2 separate regions of the Homo sapiens genome follow, and region 2 is linked to region 1. Evidence: fine-mapped expression QTL. A gene starts in region 1. The other region holds a variant in brackets. All regions are shown on one strand. Distances are between the middles of the regions.

Region 1 (9,938 bases):
GGCAGGGAAGGGTGGGCATCCTCACGCAGAGCCAGCCTGTAGATAAAAGTTGGCATTCTTGGCTGTGGAGTATTTGATATTGAGCTCCAAGTCTTCCACTGTCTTTTCATCCAGGCAGTGAGGCCAACCTGGGTTGTAAGCCTTCCACCTGGAGGGTAGAGAGGGAAGGTGGTCAGCAAGAGGCCTCAGGGAGACTCTTTGCTAGGGCAGATGGAGTGGCAGTCCCCTTGGGGGGCCTGGTCACAGCCAGACCCCTTCAGCCAAGAGGGCCCTCCTGGGAGCTGCCCTTCCATTCTACCCAAGGAGGCTGCAAGGGAGCTGCCATTTTCCCACAGTGAGATGGCTCCCCTGGTCAAGGGTGATTGGTCCAGAGTTGAGCACCTGACTAGAGCTGGGCCAATCAGAGTCCTTTCCAGGGAATTTGCCATTGGGGCTGAGCCAGAGAGGTGGTCTCTCTCTGGATATGTAGATTATAGCAGTAAACACAGACTGTTAGTTATGGCCATTTTCCACTGGGTGGACAATTCCTGCCTGTGTTTCTGTAAGTGCCTCTGTGTCTGGCCGACAAACTTTTTTTCTGCCTGCTAGTTGGAGTTAGCTTTTGTTCTTGCAACTATAGAAGTCCCGACTAACACAGACGCATCTTGTAGAGGCGAGACTATCCTGGGACAGGGGCTGCGCAGAAGGTTTCAGTTGCCTTTGGTAGGTGTCCCATAGAGAGGCACTTCAGCCTTCATAGTTTAGGGGGAGCCGCCCGAGGCATCTCTAAATTCTATTCTCAAACAAGCAACACAGCCAAAGACCTTCCAGGGAAATGGTAAATTCATGTATCTGCAAACTTGATGACCCCTAGCCAGTCATGCTCTCACTCATTCATTCTTTGATTCATTCAAAACTTGCTTTTGGGTTTGAGCTTTCAACTTCAAAGAAAAATTTGCAATTAAAGTACACTGCCACCAGGTGGTGGCCAAACCCTTCCTCTCAGACTTGAATCCCTCTCACATAGAGATCTTGGTTAAATGCAGATTCTGATTTCTAACAAGCTCCCAGGCAATGCTGTTGCAATGGATCTGAGACCTCACTGTACGTTTTATAAGAGCCTAGAGTGTTGGAACAGAGTGAACTGAAAGACAGGAACAACAGCAAGAGCACACAGTTGTGCAAGACTTAGCAGCTGACCACCTACATTCTTAACCATTTTCTCATTTGTTCCTCCTAACCCAAACGAGATTGGTATTCTTAGTTTCTTTTACAGAAGAAAATAAGAATTGAAGAGATGAAAAAATTGGTCTAAGATCTCACAGCTCGTTTTGGCAGGGCCTAGGCTGACTCTGGGTCTCCATGGACACAGTAGATCTCAATGTCTATTCCCTCTCTTGGGGCTGTTGCTGCCAGATTTGGTGCAATGGTTTCCTTAGGGGTGGAATTCATGACACATGGAGAATCACCAGGAACCAAATGAGCCTGTGGCTGCTCTGATCCCACAGACCAGGAGCAAAAGCCTGCAGCCCAGGCTTTAGATAGCAGATGAGTTGGCCGGATCAAGATCTTTTGAAAATCTGTTTCTGAATGCAGTTCCTGGCTTTGTGCCAAGGGAATCCTCACTAGCGGCCCCAACTCCTCTGTTATCTCCAAGTCCCAGTTTTCCCCTGTGATCTCCAATGCTGAGCCCAGAGCACAGAGAGAGCCCCCATCTCACCCCTTGCTAGCCCTGGAGGGTGAGTTTCCTGGGGCTTGAAGGGCGTGTTTCTGGCTCTACTCAGATTTCTGGGAGGACACAACAAGCCGATGCATGAAAAAGTCCCAGGGCAAGGAAGACACCAGCAAAGGTAAGGCATTTAAAGCAGTTTCTTTCTCTTTCTTTTCTTTCTTTCTTTCTTTCTTTCTTTCTTTCTTTCTTTCTTTCTTTCTTTCTCTCTCTTTCTTTCTCTCTTTCCTTCCTTTTCCTTCCTTCCTTTTTTTTTTTCTTTTTTTGAGATGGAGTTTTGCTCTGTCCCCCATGCTGGAGTGCAATGGCGTGATCGGCTCACTGCAACCTCCACCACCCGGGTTCAAGCTATTCTTCTGCCTCAGCCTCCCATGTAGCTGAGAATACAGGTGCCCGCCACCCTACCCAGCTGATTTTTGTATTTTTAGTAGAGATGGGGTTTCGCCCTGTTGGCCAGGCTGGTCTCGAACTCCCGACCTCCAGTGATCCGCCTCCCTCAGCCTCCCAAAGTGCTGAGATTACAGGTGTGAGCCACCACGGCACCTGGCCCTAGAGCAGTGTTTTTCAAACATCAGTGGCCACCAGAGTCATCTGGAAGGCTTGTCAAAACAAAAATTCCCACTCTACACCCTCAGTGTCGTAGTAGGTTGGAGGTGGCCTGAGAATTTGCATTTCTAATACGTTCCTGTAGACGCTGCTGATCCCAGGAGCAGCTTTGATAGGAGAGGTGGAGGCAGGGGCTTTTAATCTCTGTCATGACCAGGACACTCAAGCTGCCCCTCATCGTTTGGGCACACCCTCCCCCATCAGTAACCCCCTCCTCACTGGTACATCTCCTGCCGGGCCTGAAGCTCCTCCTGGCGCTGTTGCTGGAGCACAGGGTGGTGGTCTGCCCAGGACACCTTGGCTGTGGGAGAAGGGGAGTAGGTTGGGGTGGGGAGAGAAACTCACCATCACTACCACCAGCCACACAGTCTCCACGATTGCCACCCTCTACCAGGTCCCCTCCTCCCATAAGTACAGTTTCTCCTACACCAGGCTGCTACCTCCCGCTCCCCAAGGCTCCGCCATTCCCTCTCCTCTGCCCGCTACTCTGTGGCCACACCAGCTCACCTCTCCATTTCACCTGCCCTTCTCCCCAACCCCCAGTCCCCTACCCCTTCCTGTGCTCCCCCTGCAGCCCCAGCCCGGCCCGCCCCTCACCTGTACCCTCCTGCAGCACCAGGGTCCCCGCCCCCTCCAGCCACTGGTAGCAGGGGAAGAGGAGGTGGCCGCCCCGCGGCGGTGTCAGCTGGAACCAGCGGCAGAACCAGGCATCCGGGGCCAGGGGCCCCAGCAGGGGCAGCACTGGGGGCGCCTTGTGCACGCGCAGCAGCAGCACTCGGCCTACGTCCTCCGGGAGCGTCACCTGGAAGTCCTCCTCCTGAGGGGAGGTTAAGTATGCGTCAGGCCGGACCCTCCTGCTCGCCCCCTTCACCTCCACCCCATCCACTCCCACGCACTCACAGCGCCCGCAGTGAACTCCTTGCCGAGATTGTCCAGGGGCAGTGGGGGGCTCTCTCCCCGGGTCCCCACGATGCTGACAGACACTTTGTCCCATGTGCCAGCCCCGAAGGCTTCTCCGGTGGACACCCTGACCCTGAACTCGGCCATGCTGCCAGCCTAAGTCCAGCTCTCTACGGCGCACAGGGCTGCAGAGCGGGGCTCCCCCCTGGGACACGCCTGGTTATTGCCCCTGGTTATTGCCACTGACTCCAAGCCCAGTGGACTCCTCTAAAAAGCACGTCCGTTTCAGGGCGGGGAGGGGCGGGGCGGAGAGGCTGGAACACGCAACTAAAGTGGGGGTGGGCGGGGGATTGGCAGCGCTGGGAACAGGAGGGACTAAGAATACCCTGAGGTTTGGGGAACGGGGCCTTTCAGTGGTGGTGCCAGGCCAGAGAGCCTAGAGTTGGGACCCAGTTGGGGTGGGGGTAGATTTGTGCCCACCACGTCTGTTTGTTTTCCTTCTTAGCCTTAGAAGTCTATGCAAAAATATCACCCCATTTCCCACAACTCTTCTTGGGCCTGCGTTCATTATTTTTAAAATTTATTTATTTATTTATTTTTGAGACAGAGGCTTGCTCTGTCGCCAGGCTGGAGTGCAGCAGCATGATCTCGGCTCACTGGAACCTCCTCCTCCTGGGTTCAAGTGATTCTCCTACCTCAGCCTCCCCAGTAGCTGAGACAACAGGCGAGTGCCACCATGCCCAGCTAATTTTTGTATTTTAGTAGAGACGGGGTTCCACCATGTAGGCCAGGATGATCTTGATCTCTTGACCTCATGATCCGCCTGCCTCGGCCTCCCAAAGTGCTGGGATTACAGGCGTGAGCCACCGCGCCCAGCCTACATTCATTATTTTATTTCATTCAATAATTAATGTTCAGAACTACCTCTGTGCCAGGTGCTATGCTCACTGCTATTGATAAAGGCCCAGGCAAGACCTAGTGCTTGCTCTCATGGAGATTAAAAATCAAGTGTGAGGCCAGGCACAGTTGCTGGCCAACATGGTGAAACCCCATCTCTACTAAAAATACAAAAAAATTAGCCAAGCGTGGTGGCGGGCGCCTGTAGTCCCAGCTACTCAGGAGGCTGAGGCAGGAGAATAGCTTGAACCCGGAAGGCGGAGGTTTCAGTGAGGTGAAGTTGTGCCATTGCACTCCAGCATGGGCGACAGAGCAAATCTCGGTCTAAAAAAAAAAAATCAAGTGTGAGAGAAAATAAGTAAACCAACACATAATTTCAGATGATAATAAGTGCAATGAAGGAAATGAAACAGACTAATGTGAAGGAGTGAGAAGCAGAGGTGGGAAGGGAGGCGTTCAGAGCCTCAGAGGAGGTGAAAGGATCTGTCTGGGGAACAGAGTTTTGTGCAGAGGAAACTGTTCCTGAAGAGGCCCTGTGGTTAGGAAAAGCTTGGCTTGTTGGAGGAGGGAAAGGCAAGAGTGCAGTGAGGGAGGGATTTGGGGGAGAGATGCCAAGGGGAAGTTATGGATTTGGGCTTTGGGGGAATAACATAACAGATTTGGGGTTTTCGGTCTGGAGATGCTAAGTTTGAGATGGCCATTAGACATCCAAGTGGAGAACCCACGTCTGGGCATAGAGCTCAGGACTGCAGGTGTGCATCTTTGAGTCACAAGCACACAGGTACATCTATACCACAGGCTGGTGGAGATCACTAGGCAGAGAATATCCTATAAGTAGAGAAGAGAAGAGGCACAAGCTGTGCCCTAAGGTCCTCTGATATTTGGAAGTCATGCAAAGGAGTGGAAGCAGCAAAGTTCAGTCAATGAGGTAGGAGGAGAACGATGCCGGCAGACACTTTGTCCTCTTGTGCCTGTCACAGTGTTTCATGAAAGCCAACTGAAGTGAGAGTGACTTATCATGTATATTCCATATATACCATGGAATACTATACAGCCATGAAAAAGAATGAGATCATGGTCAGGCATGGTGTCTCACACCTGTAATCTCAGAACTTTGGGAGGCTGAGGCAGGCAGATCACGAGGTCAGGAGTTCGAGACCAGCCTGACCAACATGGTGAAACCCCATCTCTACTAAAAATACAAAAATTAGCTGGGTGTGGTGGTGACTGCCTGTAATTCCGGCTACTCAGGAGGCTGAGGCAGGAGAATCATTTGAACCCGGGAGGCAGAGGTTGCAATTCCAGCTACTCAGGAGGCTGAGGCAGGAGAATCACTTGAACCCGGGAGGCGGAGGTTGCAGTGAGCCAAGATCGTGCCACTGCACTCCAGCCCTGGTGATAGAGCGAGACTTCGTCTCAAAAAAAAAAAAAAAAAGAATGAGATCATGTCCTTTGTGGGAACATGGATAGAGCTGGAGGCCATTATCCTTAGCAAACTAACACAGGAACAGAAAACCAATATTGCACGCTCCAGTTCTTACTTTCAATTCTTTAGGATATATACCTAGTAGTAGAATTGCTGGATCATATGGTAACAGTATGTTTAATTTTTTTTTTTTTTTTTTGAGACCGAGTCTCGCTCTGTTGCCCAGGCTGGAGTGCAGTGGCGCAATCTGTGCTCACTGCAACCTCCGCCTCCTGGGTTTAAGCGATTCTCCTGCCTCAGCCTGCTAAGTAGCTGGGATTACAGGCGCCTGCCACCATGCCCAGCTAATTTTTGTATTTTTAATAGAGATGGGGTTTCACCACATTGACCAGGCTGATCTTGAACTCCTGACCTCAGGCGATCCACCCACCTCGGCCTCCCAAAGTGCTGGGATTACAGACGTGAGCCACTGTGCCCAGCCTGTATATTTAATTTTTTGAGGAACCGCCATACTATTTTCCACAATGGACGCAACATTTTACATTCCCACCAGCAATGCAGGAGGAGGGTTCCAGTTTGTCCACCAATGCTTGTTATTTTCTGTTTATTTGATAATAGCCATTTTAATGGGCCTGAACTGGTATCTCATTGTGGTTTTGATCTGCATTTCCCTAATAATCGGTAATGTTAAGCATCTTTCCATTTGCTTGTTGGCCATTTATGTATCACCTTTGGAGCAATGTCTGTTAATGTCCTTTGCCCAAACCATCCGTTCTTAATTCTTATCCATTGCTAGGTTGAATTTTAGATTTATCATGTGAGTCGTATGCAAGACCCACACGTTTTCAAATACGTCAAATGTTTTTATTTATAGATCACTCTTTTTTTTCCTAAAGTAGTATCTATAGTACATTTCTTTATTCATATATCTTCACATGGTCAAGTTTTCTTTCATACATCCAAAATGTAGTGTGATGTTTTCTTATTCACCAAATGTTAGCTCTACTTGTAGTCTGGTTCCAAACTAATCAGCCTGCTTTTAAATTTTAAGACATTTGTTGAAAAAAAAATTTTTTTTCTTTTTTCTTTTTTTTGAGATGGAGTCTCGCTCTGTCGCCCAGGCTGGAGTGCAGTGGCGCAATCTTGGCTCACTGCAAGCTCCGCCTCCCGGGTTCACGCCGTTCTCCTGCCTCAGCCTCCTGAGTAGCTGGGACTACAGGCTCCCACCACCACGCCTGGCTAATTTTTTGTACTTTTAGTAGAGACAGGGTTTCACCGTGTTAGCCAGGATGGTCTCCATCTCTGACCTTGTGATCCGCCTGCCTTGGCCTCCCAAGACATTTGTTGAAAGTTTATAGGATCAAACCAAACTCAAGTGGTATCATTTTTAAACATTGGATTGTACATTATTGTAAAGGTACCAGTAACCATTATTATTAAGAATAAGTTAGTGATTATAGCTCCTTTTGTAATAATTAGATCACTCTCATAATACAAATCAATATTGCAAGTATCCATGTGCCAAAATCTAGTGAGTCTAGGAAAAAGTGAAAATGCTTTATTGTCTCTTCATCCTAAAATACATCCTTGGATACTTAGAAATTTCAGTGAATCTATTTTAAAGGAAACTTTGTGTCACTATTGTAAATCGAAAATTCGTTTCATTTCCCATAATAGAAGGTAAGAATAAAGGAGAATGCAATGAAAACCAAACAGTGTAATTCAATTCCAGGTAGATTCTTTTGCCTGTGGCCAGCTCCCTGTTCCAGGAGATTATCTAACGCTAAAGGGGTGCTAAAAACATATCAATACCAAATTGACACTTTCTCCCTGAAAAGGGGAATTGATTTGCCGTTTTATCTCAATTAAACCTGTGATCTTGCACCTCCAAGGACTTGTCCTGGAGTAGCGTTGCTCAACGTGTGGCAAGCAGATGGCTGGCATCAGATGTCTTTGAATGCTTATTAAAAATGTCAGTTCCGGGTTGGATGTGACTCCTGCCTATAATCCCAGCACTTTGGGAGGCAGAGGTGGGTGGATCACTTGAGGTCAGGGGTTTGAGACCAGCCTGGCCAACATGGCAAAACACCATCTTTACTAAAAATACAAAAATTAGCTGGGCCTGTTGGTGGGTGCCCATGGTCCCAGCTACTCAGGAGACTGAGGCAGGAGAATCGCTTGAACCCAGGACGCAGAGATTCCAGTGAGCCGAGATCATGCCACTGCACTCCAGCCTGGGCAGCAGAATGAGCAGTGTGAGACTCTGTCTCAAAAGAAAAAAAAAATGCCAGTTCCCCATCCCTGCCTCACACCAAGGAGGCAGACTCCCCAGAAGATTAGCCAGGGAATCTACATTTTACAGTAGGGTGATTCTTCTTTAGAACCACTGCCCTTGATCCTTTTGTACTTGGTAAGCATGATGATTGGGTTTTTATGCTTATATATGAGACATGCTTGTCTCAAATCTTGTTACAGCACATTACCCTTCCTACTTAAAAGGTTAAAAAAAAAAAGAACCATCGCCCTTGATCATGTAAATATTTTATTACATTCTGTCCTACAGCTCATGATGATCTCAGACAGGTTGAACAGGAGTTGTCACCCAACCCCTCAAGATATAGATGAAGAAATCTGAGCCCTGACTGGGAAAGGGGTTTACTTGAGATTTTAAAATGTCCATTAAGTCATGTGCACCCCATCTTTGAGCCCCTGAATGATTTGGCTCCTGCTTGCCTTCTTTTTTTTTTGAGATGGAGTCTTGCTCCGTTGCCCAGGCTGGAGTGCAATGGCACCAACTCGGCTCACTGCAACCTCTGCCTCCTGGGTTCAAGCCATTCTCCTGCCTCAGCCTCCTGAGTAGCTGGGATTACAGGTGCCCATCACCACGCTCGGCTAATTTTTTTGTATTTTTAGTAGAGATGAGGTTTTGCCACATTGGCCAGGCTGGTCTCAAACTCCTGACCTCAGGTGGTCCACCTGCCTCAGCCTCCTAAAGTGCTGGGATTACAGGCGTGAGCCACTGCACCGGGCCTTTGTTTCCCTCCCTCCCTCCCTCCCTTCCTTCCTCTTTCCTGTCTTCTCTTTTACTTTCTTTTAAATTCGAATATTCTCATCAAAGCTGTAGATGCATATGATTTAAAGAGTCAAATAGTTCTACAAATCTCTCACCAACAACTGCTTCCTGCTCCACTTCTGTCCTTTCCCTCTCATGAAAGACAATAACTTTCACTACTTTCTTTGATAATCTAAACCACTGCATCTCAAAATAGCATGCATGATTGTTTATTTAATGATTTTTCAGCTTTAGGCAAATATTGGCTTCCCCCTGTGGAAGATAGGATTTTTTTTTTTTTTTTTTGAGACGGAGTTTCGCTCTTGTTACCCAGGCTGGAGTGCAATGGCATGATCTTGGCTCACCGCAACCTCCGCCTCCTAGGTTCAAGTGATTTTCCAGCCTCAGCCTCCTGAGTAGCTGGGATAACAGGCATGCGCCACCACGCCCGGCTAATTTTTGTATTTTTAGTAGAGACAGGGTTTCACCATGTTGGTCAGGCTGGTCTCGAACTCCTGACCTTGTGATCTGCCCGCCTCGGCCTCCCAAAGTGCTGGGATTACAGGCGTGAGCCACCGTGCCTGGCCTGGAAGATAGGATTTCATTTTCTTTCCTAGTCTTGCTCCCATTTGCAAACGTTTCTCACCCCCATCCTTCTAGTACAGTTTTATTAGGACCGAGCAAACGACACTCAGTGTTTACGTGATTTTTGTTATGGATATGCTATTCATAGGGGACATTTATAGTATACTGTAATTATTTTTTTCTTCCATACAAAACCTTTTGTTGTTTCTCTATATAATAATGATTATATTATTGGTCTGGTTTTCTATATATTTTTCATTAGTTTAATCCGAAACTTCACCACTTGTTCAGATTGCCTCTCTATCAGTTCAGACACATCCATTTCCCAGTCGGTTCCACTGTGTGAAGGAGTCTCTCCAGTGTGTCCTGTTGGCTTCTTTCCTGGTCCTCCTGAGCTCTTGCTTCACCACCATCCTTTGTCTTCCTTTTACCTCTCTGCTGTGCTGGAGATTTGTTTCCCGGATCTCATGTTTTGTTATTTCCTGGCTTATTTCTTGGGCTAAGCAAGAAAGGGTATGTGGGAGGGAGGAGAAGTTTTTAAGACTTTGCATGTCTGGAAATGCCTATAATCTATCTATACACTTAAATAGTAGCTCTGAAATCAATTTTTTTTTTTTTTTGGTTCGGAATTTTGAAAGCACTGCTCCAATGGTAGCAGTGTTGCTATAAAGAAGCCTAGAGCTATTTGCATTCCTGATTATTTTCATATGACATGACATTTTCTCCAGAAGCTTTTAGGAGCCTCTCCCTGGCCCAGCTTCCAT
Region 2 (9,764 bases), 32 kb before region 1:
CCGAAGGAACCCAGGAAAGCCTCCTGCCTCTCCCAACATCCCCAGGTCTGGGACCGGAGCGGCATCCCCAGGGAAACTGGAAGAGAGATCTGAGGGCCACTGGTTAGACAGGGGCCAGGAGCAGCCCTGGAGGACTTCTGGCCAAGTCCTCCGTCCCCAGCCTTATGATCTGGGTGAGGGGAGATGGGGTTGCTGCCATAGGAGGGTCACGCAGGCAGGATGAGGGTACGGATGCGGCAGCTTGAAGCTTTTGCAAAACGGTGAGAGCGGGGCATGGTGGCGCCCTCTGCCGGGCAGCCAGTACCAGGGCACGACTGATGTCGCCTGGGCTTTTCCCCCGCCGGTCAGGCTTCCCTAGGTGCTTGCGAACCGTGCCTGAGCTGATCCGATATGTCACTATAGTCATCTACACCTGCTCTGCCAAGCACGCTGCTGTCAACACAGGCCAGGTACCGGTGGTCTCACCAACCCAGGCCCAGCCCGAGGCTCAGACCTTCTAAATTTCGTCCATGCCCCAACCTCAAACCCAGCCTCAGCCATAATCCCTGGTCCAGCCTCAACTTGTTCCAGCTTCAACTCCAGTCCCAACGGAAACCGAGCCTCAGCCCCAACTCTCAGCCCCAGCCCCACACCCAGCCCCACCCCCAGTCTAACCAACCCAGCCCAGCCTCAGCGCCAAGGGCGGGGAGTCCATCTCAGCGACTGGAGGGCGGGTGGTCAGCACCTGGTGGAAGGAAACTCCTGAGGTACTCTTCCACCCAGACCCGCGCCTCTATCCCACCTCCAGATGGAGTTCACCGCCTGGATGCCCAACTTCCCAGCGTCCATGCGGAATCCACCGATTCAGACTAAGGGGCTGACCACTCTGGAGACCTTCATGGACACGTTGCCGGATGTGAAGACCACGTGCATCACGCTGCTGGTGCTCTGGACCCTCAGCCGAGAGCCTGACGACAGGGTGCGAGACGGGATGGGGGACTCTGAGCACAGGGAGGGGACCAGAAGCCGGGGATGGGGGAGGATAACTAGCGGCGTCAAGAGGGGAGCAGGGAGTGAGAGGCCACTGAAACCAAAGGGTGGAGGGGCCAGGGCCACCGGCAGGAGGAGGGGGTGCTGGCCGGCCCTGGTCCCAGCTGTCGAGCTCTCTGCCCGCAGCGGCCCCTGGGACACTTCCCGGACATTCACTTCGTGGAGGAGGCCCCGCGGAGGAGCATAGAGGCGTTCCGCCAGCGCCTGAACCAGATCTCACACGACATCCGCCAGCGCAACAAGTGCCTTCCCATCCCCTACTACTACCTGGACCCGGTGCTGATTGAGAACAGCATTTCTATTTAGGAGCGCGCTTCCCGTCTCTCCTCTCCCCATTCTGTGCCCTACTATTTTCAACAAAACAAAACAAACAAGCAAAAAACACAAAAACCTCAGAGACCAAAACACCAAACAAACAAAAAAACAAAAAACCTTCCTTTCCCTGGGTCTGGCTGTGAATGCGCGCGGCAAGTTACTGGGGCGCTGGCGGCAGGGCTGGCGCCGCGGGGTGCAGGTGCAGGCTGTGCCGCGCGCTCTCACCGCGATTCCGTTCTCTGCGGCCGCGGGGTTCAGGTAGGAGTAGGGCAGCGCCAGGCCCCGGCTCCACTCCAGGACGTCCGCCGAGATCTGGGCCAGGCGGCTCTGCCGCGGGGCCTTCTCGGTGAAGTGCTCCTCTGGGTAGGTGTCCAGGAGGGGAGACCGAAAGGCTGGGACCTTGGCCGGCTGCATTTTCAGCCCACAACGATTCTGTTCCAGCTTAAGTCTCCCTCCCAGGGGACTTAGTCCACCCAAGCCCAGCCCACGTAGGGGTCCTGGAGCACTCCAGACCCATCCAACTTGAAACATAAAACACCCGCCCACCTAGACAAAAGACTGCGGGCCACAAGAAACCCAGACCACCCCAAGCCCGGCTCACTCTGAAGCCCAGACCACTCTAAACTCCCCCTACTAGGAATCCACAGCACCCTAAACCACACCCACCAGCAACCTAGTGGCCACAAGCCCTGCCACCTAGGAGCCCAGCCTGCTAAGCTAAGTGCATCCTCCTAGTAGCCATTGTCCCCAGGATCCCTTCCTCAATGTTCCCACTCTCTAGAAGCTGAGACCCCAGCCATCCCCACCTGGGCCTTGCTTATGGTGGCCTTGGTTCCATTGCTGACCCCCCACAGGAGCAGCAGGGGGTGGTGTGTGGCATCGACCGCAGGGAGTGAGGCTGCTTGTTCTGTCTGGCCCTTGGCGGTGGGCAGGGCAAGCCACAGGATGATAGGAATATTGGGGATCCAGTCACTGAATTCAGACCGACCCCCGCAAACTCAGTACAGAGCTTCCAGTGCTGCTAGGGCTGCTCCTCCCGTGACCCTGCTTGTCCCCCTGGTCTGGCAGTGGCTCACCTGGCCGCTGTTGATGGCAGCATGTTGGGCTGAGCAGGTGACGATGATCGTCGTGAAACACCGGATGAGCCCAGCACAGTGGCCCAGGGTGGAGGGGACCCCCTAGATGGGAGTAGGGTAGAGAGAACAGAGCTGAGACCCAAGAGGCTGCTGCCCTGGGGCAGTGGACGCCACCTCTGAGAGCATTTGGCTTGGAAAACCCTCCTGGAAGATCTCCCTGACCCAGGCCTGGAGCTCTGAGTCCCTGCTCACTGCCGTATCGTCCGGGTAGTAGATGTTAACAATATTGGTCCCAAAGCTGGGGGGTCGGGAATACACGGTGACTAACAGCCGGGAGCCAACACTGCACAGGGGTATGGGTTGGAAGGGGCCACTGAGACCTGCTGCCCACAAAGGGGGAAACTGAGGCCAAGGAAGGAAAACGGCCAACCACAGAGTGAACTGCAGAGCCGAGATCAAACCGGGAGGCTGTGCTCTTCACCATGCCATGCAAACAGAGGCCCGAAGGCCATGATTGATCTGCAGATGTGTTTTGATCAGCTGGCAAGGTTTTTCTGTTTGTTTTTCAAGTTGAATCACTTGCCAAC[G/A]TTTAAATATTAGAAGATGTCTGGTTTCTGCTGAAAAATCAGAAGATCTGGTCACAGTGATAGCTGGGTCACCACTGTCCCCATCAGACAAACATGAGTTTCCCACTGGCCACGGTCCCTGCCCACTCTTCTTCCTTAGCTTTTCTCTGCTCACTGGTCCTGCAGGCATTTGGATTCCAACCCACAGGGAAGGATGAGACACCAGGTCCATCTGCCTCAGGACCGGCTGATTGGGTTCATCTCATCCACTGGTTCCCAAAGGGCCCTCCATCCCCAGCCATAGTAGGATGTGCAGACCCCTGCTGAGGAAGGAGCTCCTGCTGTGGATGTTCATATAGGGGGAGTCCCTGAGGTCTTCAAGGGGGAGGTGGGACATGAGTTGGGCTTGAAGCAGGGGCAGAATTTGAATTGGGAGAAAGGGAGAAATTAGGGTGCCTCGTCTCCCTAGGCCCAGTGTGTGCTGAGGTGGAAGAATGGAAGTAGGGGCAGATTTCAGAGGGGCTGAGCTGGCAGGGAATGCAGCATTGCATGTGGCGAGCCACTGGGCACCACTGGAGGCTAATGGGCAGCGGCACCGCCATCAATCTCGGTGCTGGAGGGAGGCCATTATGCAGGCTGGTGGCAGGAGCTGGGAACCCGTGGGAGGCCAGATATTAAGAGGATCTGGCCATTGGGGTGGAGGCCACAGCTATACCCCAAGGCAGTCTCCTATGAGGAAGATTTCAACGGAAAAACCTGGAGACACAGTGACTTTATCTATGGGGTGAAAAATAATCTTTTTTTTTTTTTTTTGAGACCGAGTTTTGCTCTTGTTGCCCAGGCTGGAGTGCAATGGCACGATCTTGCTCACTGCAACCTCCGCCTCCTGGGTTCAAGTGATTCTCCTGCTTCAGCCTCCCCAGCAGCTGGGATTACAGGCGCCCACCACTACACCCAGCTAACTTTCGTATTTTTAGTAGAGATGGGGTTTTGCCATGTAGGCCAGGCTGGTCTCGAACTCCTGACTTCAAGTGATCCGCCCACCTCAGCCTCCCAAAGTGCTGGGATTACAGGTGTGAGCCGCCGCGCCCGGCATAATAATCTTAATAGCTAATCTCCGAGAGCACTTTCTGTGCACTGGGGTTTGTTCTTAGGGTTTTGGATTGAATAAGAATAATAAGCTATACCATAGGTGCTCTTATTACCCCATTGTCAGATGAGGAAACAGGCACAGAGAGGTTAAATAACTTCCCAACACAGCTGGGAAGGATCAAGAGTAAACAGGAAGGGCTTGGAGACAGCAGTGTGTTTGGGAAGGAGGCTGGGGGAAGGTTGAATAAACCAACAGGGGTCTAGCCGAGGGTGAGAGGGTTGGAGCCCTCAGGCCCCAGGGGAGTGTCACCTCTCTATGGCTGCCCAGATCTGGAGTGTAGTAGCGGGCGAGGTCCTGGACCTTGAAGTCAGCCAGCTGGTGGGACAGGTAGAGGGAGTGGTAGCTGGCAGCTGCCAGCCCTTTGGTGATCAGCTCCAGGCAGCCCATCTGTCCCAACAATGTTGACTGTAATGAGCAGAGAGCCCACTCCTGCTGCTAGGAGGGGCTCTGGACCAAATCTCAGGCCTCCCCAGGCCCTCTGTGCTCACCCCAAGATCCCAGGCCTCCAGGGCCTTGACCTGGTGGATGAGCTTTCCTGGTACAAAGAGCCCAGTGCGGGCTGGATGTTGATGTGGAAGGTGCAGAAGAAAGGGGAAGCCGGAGTCAGAGGTCAGATCAGGCAGCCCCGGGTCTCCCACAGCTGTGGGCACTGAGAGGAGGGCTCCTCCCTGCCTTGAAAATGGGTGGCTCATGGGCAGCTGCCACAGCATGGACAAAGCAAAAGCTCCACCACAAAGTGGGTTTGAAGTAGATGAGTGACCGTCTTGTGCAACAGGAACTTTCAGGGTCACACCCAGGTCTTGGCCAGGAACCAGTCTTCAGCTGGGGTCACTGGGCAGGAAGATGGGGCTGTCTAGGCTGGGTGTCTGAGTGAGCTGGAGTGGGGGCACAGGAGAGGGCAGGCATTGGGCAGAAACTGGGGAAGGGCAGCCCATCACCACGTCCATGGGGCCAGAATAAGGGAGGAGACCACCCCTCATATTGTCTTATGCCCAATTTCTGCCTCCAAAGAAAGAAGAAGTAAAAACTAAGGCAGAAATGAAATCCACAGGCAGGCAGCCCTGCGCCACACCCCGGGCCTGGTAGTTAAAGATCAACCCCTAATCTAATCGGTTATGTTATCTGTAGATTACAGACATTGTATAGAAAAGCACTGTGAAAATCCCTGTCCTGTTCTGTTCCGTTCTAATTGCCAGTGCATGCAGCCCCCAGTCACATACCCCCTGCTTGCTCAATTGATCACGACCCTCTCAAGCAGACCCCCTTAGAGTTGTAAGCCCTTAAGAGGGACAGGAATTGCTCACTCTGGGAGCTCGGTTTTTGAGACGCGAGTCTTGCCGATGGTCCTGGCTGAATAAAGCCCTTCCTTCTTTAACTTGATGTCTGAGGGGTTTTGTCTGCGGCTCGTCCTGCTACAAAATCACACGACTTTTGACCAGCTGTGTGAACTTGGGAAAGTTTATTAACCTCTCTGTGATTCAGTTTCCTCATTAGTAAGACAAGGTTGATGAGAATAATCTCCTTGAGAGGTGAAGTGACCCAAGGCATCGTGTTGGCTGACTTCCCTGTACCAGTCCAGTCATCCAGAGCCCCAGTTGTGTGGGGCAGACTGGAAGGATGGGAAGGGACGGTGTGGACACCTCCCGAATGGGTTATGGTTTTAACTATTAGGAACACGGTTGAACTGCCAAAGGTGCGTGACTTAGTACAATCGATTCTGACACCCTGTCAAGGGGCAATTTGTTCTCTTGAGTATCATAAACTTTCTATCAAGATGGAAATCAAAGAGGACAAAACAGAAAGACAAACTTGAGAGGGGCTGAGTAGGATTGGAGAGGTGATGTCACCAGGCACAGTGGCATTGGGAGGAGGCAACCTTTCAGTCATCCCGAGGATGTAATAGACTTCCCCTACCCCACCCACCAGCCCACCGAGGCCCTGCCTGGCTGACCAGAATGACAAGGGATAGCAAGGGCCTGTTGCCGTTGGGACGCTGGTGCAGCAGGATCAGGGGTGCAGTCATGAACTAGGGCCTCCCATGAATGATGCTGGGGTAGAGGCCTGAGAGGATGGCATGGTCCACCAGGTACAGAGAGCCCCTTTAGAGGAGGAGTGGAGGAGGAGGAGGGCTGAGCAGGCTTGGGTGAGGAAGGGGGAGTTATTATGAACCTGGGAGTATTTCACTTAAAGGAACTTCATTCTCTGGAGCCAGTGGGGTGTTCCAACTCAGAGCCACTTTGTGGTTCCAGAGAAAGAAGCCCCTCCCCTCTTCCCCCACCCAAGTATTGAAGGTGACTCTACTGTGGCCAGGCCCAAGCATCAGTGAGAGACAGTGAGAGAAGCGCGCCCCGCTGGAGGTCAGCACGAAATGCACCCTCCTGGGGTCGCAGCACACCCCATCCCAGTAGCCCAGGGAGGGGAGAGCAGCAGCTCTGGGGGGCACTCAGATTAGCTGCAGAGCATCCTCGGAAACCATGGCAACCAACGCATCACTATAGTTTCTGTGCTGGGAGGGCCTGTCAATGCATGGCTCCTGGCAAAGTAGCAGGAGAGAGCACATTCCTCACTCAGCCCTGCCCCTCAGCCCTCACCATCTCAGAACAATGCCCCTCCCTCCACTGGCGCCCGCTCAGCCTGCAGACTGGTCCCAGGGTCCAGCGCAGGGACCATCATGGCATCAGTGACCAGAAAATTCTTTGGGAGTCAGTGACAGCAGTGGATCAGGATGGAGTTGAGGTCATTCAGAAACTAGGAGGTGAAGGAGGCGAAAAAGGTGTCCTCATCCTCCTTCTAGTCTGAAATGCATACTCTGCAGAGGGTAGGCGTGGGGAGAGTCACCCTGGTCCTCTGCCTGCAGCATGGCCACCACTGTCAGACCCATCTCCAACTTCCCAGCATAGCCACTTCCTGATGCTGATGGCTGGGCTGGGCTTCCCTCCTCTCTAGCACAACGGGTTGGATGACTTTACTTTTCCAAGTGGTTTTCTTAGACAACAAAGGATCGCAGGTTTGGTTTCTGCCTGAGGAGTCATCTGAACTCCCTTGGCCCCACCCGTTTTGAGGGAAGCCTAACATGCTCTGTGATGTGCACTAAGACCTCACCTAGGATAAGTTGAATTTGAGAAAACTGGAATACTAAAGAATGCTGGATACCAGAACGGCCCGTCCTTCCGGGCTTCCGCTCAGAGAGGCCCTTTTGATTCCCTGCCAAAACTCACCAGTCCCGGGTCCCATTCTCCTGCTACTTTGTCACAAGGCAGTGTAGATGATTTGTTAAACCAGAGTGATCATTTAATAAGAGGTTGCATTGCTTTGGGGCGTGGCACTGGTGCTAGGGTTTCTGAACCAAGAGTTTGACCTGTATAGTTTAAATGCATCGTGCACCCAGCGGCAACAAGGATATTGGAGAGTGAGCACTACTGAATCTTCCAGCTTGGTTTGCTTGTTTGTTTATTTATTTATTTATTTATTCGGAGTTTCGCTCTTTCGCCCAGGCTGGAGTGAAGTGGCGCAATCTCGGCTCACTACAACCTCTGCCTCCCAGGTTCAAGCAACTCTCCTGCGTCAGACTCCTGAGTAGCTGAGATTACAGGTGCCTGCCACCATGCGTGGCTAATTTTTGTATTTTTAGTAGAGACGGGGTTTTGCTGTGTTGGTCAGGCTGGTCTCAAACTCCTGACCTCAGGTGATCCACCTGCCTCGGCCTCCTAAGCTTAGTTTCCTTCCTTCCTTCCTTTCTTTCTTCCTTTCTTTCTATAGTCTCTCTCTGTCGCCCAGGCTGGAGTGCAGTGGTGCGATCTCCGCTCACTGCTAGCTTTGCCTCCTGGGTTCATGCCATTCTCCTGCCTCAGCCTCCAGAGTAGCTGGGACTACAGGCACCCGCCACCACCCTGGCTAATTTTGTTTTTGTATTTTTAGTAGAGACAGGGTTTCACCATGTTAGCCAGGATGGTCTCGATCTCCTGACCTTGTGATCCTCCTCACCCTGCCTGGCCTGCCTCGGCCTTCCAAAGTGCTGGGATTACAGGCGGGAGCCACCATGCCCCACCCAAGCTTGATTTATTTTCAAGTCTGCATGCCTAGGCCCCCAAGCAAGCAGGCACAATTTTGGAAGGAAAAAGTCTTTCTGCTTCAGCCTTTTTTTCCCCTTAAATTGCTGAGGATATTCAAGGACAGGTGTTCCCAGTGTTGGGGACAGTTTGAAGAAGTAGGTATGAAGTGGGGTGTAGATCAGTACACAGACCCCAGTCCCCTGACTGAATTTCAGCTGCCTCAGGAGCTTGGCTTCCTGTGGGACCGAAGTCACGGGCATCCAGAGAGGGCAGAAAAGTAGCATTGGTGCTTGCCTTGGCAAAGAAGCAAAGTTGTTAGAACTTACTTTGGCCATTCTTTTGGAAGCCCTGATAGGTGAGAATGGCTGGGCAAACATGGGCAATTACCCCACGATGAGAGAGGACATGTTGGGTGGGGCATCCTCCCAGGGTCCTTCAGCCCTGACCTTCTTCCCACACAGAAGCCACTGCTGGGCTGGGCGTGGTGGCTCACCCCTGTAATCCCAACACTTTGGGAGGCTGAGGTGGGCAGATCAGGAGGTCAGGAGTTCGAGACCAGCCTGACCAACATGGTGAAACCCCGTCTCTCCTAAAAATACAAAAATTAGCCAGGTGTGGTAGTGGGTGCCTGTAGTCCCAGCTACTCAGGAGGCTGAGGCAGGAGAATCGCTTGAACCCAGGAGGCAGAGGTTGCAGTGAGCCGAGCACAATGGCAGGACGTGCACATTCTCAGGGCAGAAGTGAGCTTCTTCAAAGGACAGGTAGGAACTGGTGGCAGCACAGAACAAGTCCTGTGATTTCCAGAATGTTCTAATTTTGGCTTTCTGGTTCTCAGTCCCACAAGGTTGCCACCAAGGACCCTCTTGCCCTGCTGCAGCCACCTCGCCCTTCCTCCCTCACCCTGCGGACCTGACACCTTGGTGTGGGGAAGATGAAGGTACACTGATCCCTTTTCCAGACCCCTGGCTGCCCAGCAGTCCTGCAGTTTCAGGGCAGTGTTCCTGCAGAAACAAAGACAGAATGGCCCAGGCTGTGGAGGGGATCCAGGTGCAGAAAGGGAGATCTTAGCCCCCAGCCTCTCCCCTCCTCTCCCCAGACCTGGGGTGGGAGCATCTTTGAACCAGGGTGTTGGCCAGCCCCTGGCCTCTGCGTCTGCTTTGCCTCTTCCCCCAGGGATGGAGAAGCCCTGCCCACTCCACCTTCCCCCCACGGCAGACCCTGCTTCAGCACCTGCTTCAGCACCTGAGGTCGTCCCCATCCGTTCACTGAGCCCCAACTCAACAGCCCAGGCCAGAGGGGACCAAAGAGTAAAGTCGGTGGGAAGAGGAAAGAGAAGACATAGCTACACCCACCACCCCCAATACTGGGCCACGATGTTCTGCCCCCAACCCCTCTGCTTCACAGGCCTGTTCTCTTTCCACCAGCTTCTCCCTCTTCCACTCACTGATCCACCACTCAACTTCCCCACCTAATCCTCTTGTCAGAGCCGGTGCTCCCCTCCCCCACTTATCTTCCATCCTCCCCTCCCTGAGTATGGTTCCTCCCAACCATCCCACCTCCTCCTTCCCGTGCC

Alleles and levels. Alleles are on the strand shown, and positions count from the first base shown. SD is a standard deviation of normalised expression in the study named.
In carriers of allele G in region 2, the expression in lung of the gene that starts at base 3,458 in region 1 tends to be higher than with A alone (small effect, 0.16 SD a copy in GTEx).

What was found. PIP is the estimated chance that this variant, and not a neighbour inherited with it, causes the effect.
Region 2: its variant is fine-mapped to the expression of ALOX15B in lung (GTEx, PIP 0.98).

The regions. Positions count from the first base shown.
Region 1 is chr17:8,032,579-8,042,516 of GRCh38, reverse strand. It overlaps ALOX15B (arachidonate 15-lipoxygenase type B), which reads right to left and starts at 3,458. Exons shown (of 14, transcript NM_001141.3): 1 at 3,215-3,458; 2 at 2,912-3,131; 3 at 2,534-2,615; 4 at 26-148. The coding sequence starts at 3,361. It also overlaps the pseudogene LOC124904131.
Region 2 is chr17:8,064,342-8,074,105 of GRCh38, reverse strand. It overlaps ALOX12B (arachidonate 12-lipoxygenase, 12R type), which reads left to right. Exons shown (of 15, transcript NM_001139.3): 13 at 349-449; 14 at 788-958; 15 at 1,156-1,470. The coding sequence ends at 1,335. It also overlaps the pseudogene ALOXE3P1. Among named protein-coding and RNA genes, the nearest start is that of ALOX12B, 18 kb to the left of the region's middle. RefSeq lists enhancers at 514-1,047, 4,628-5,129, 9,258-9,759. The variant G/A (reference allele first, on the strand shown) is at 3,008.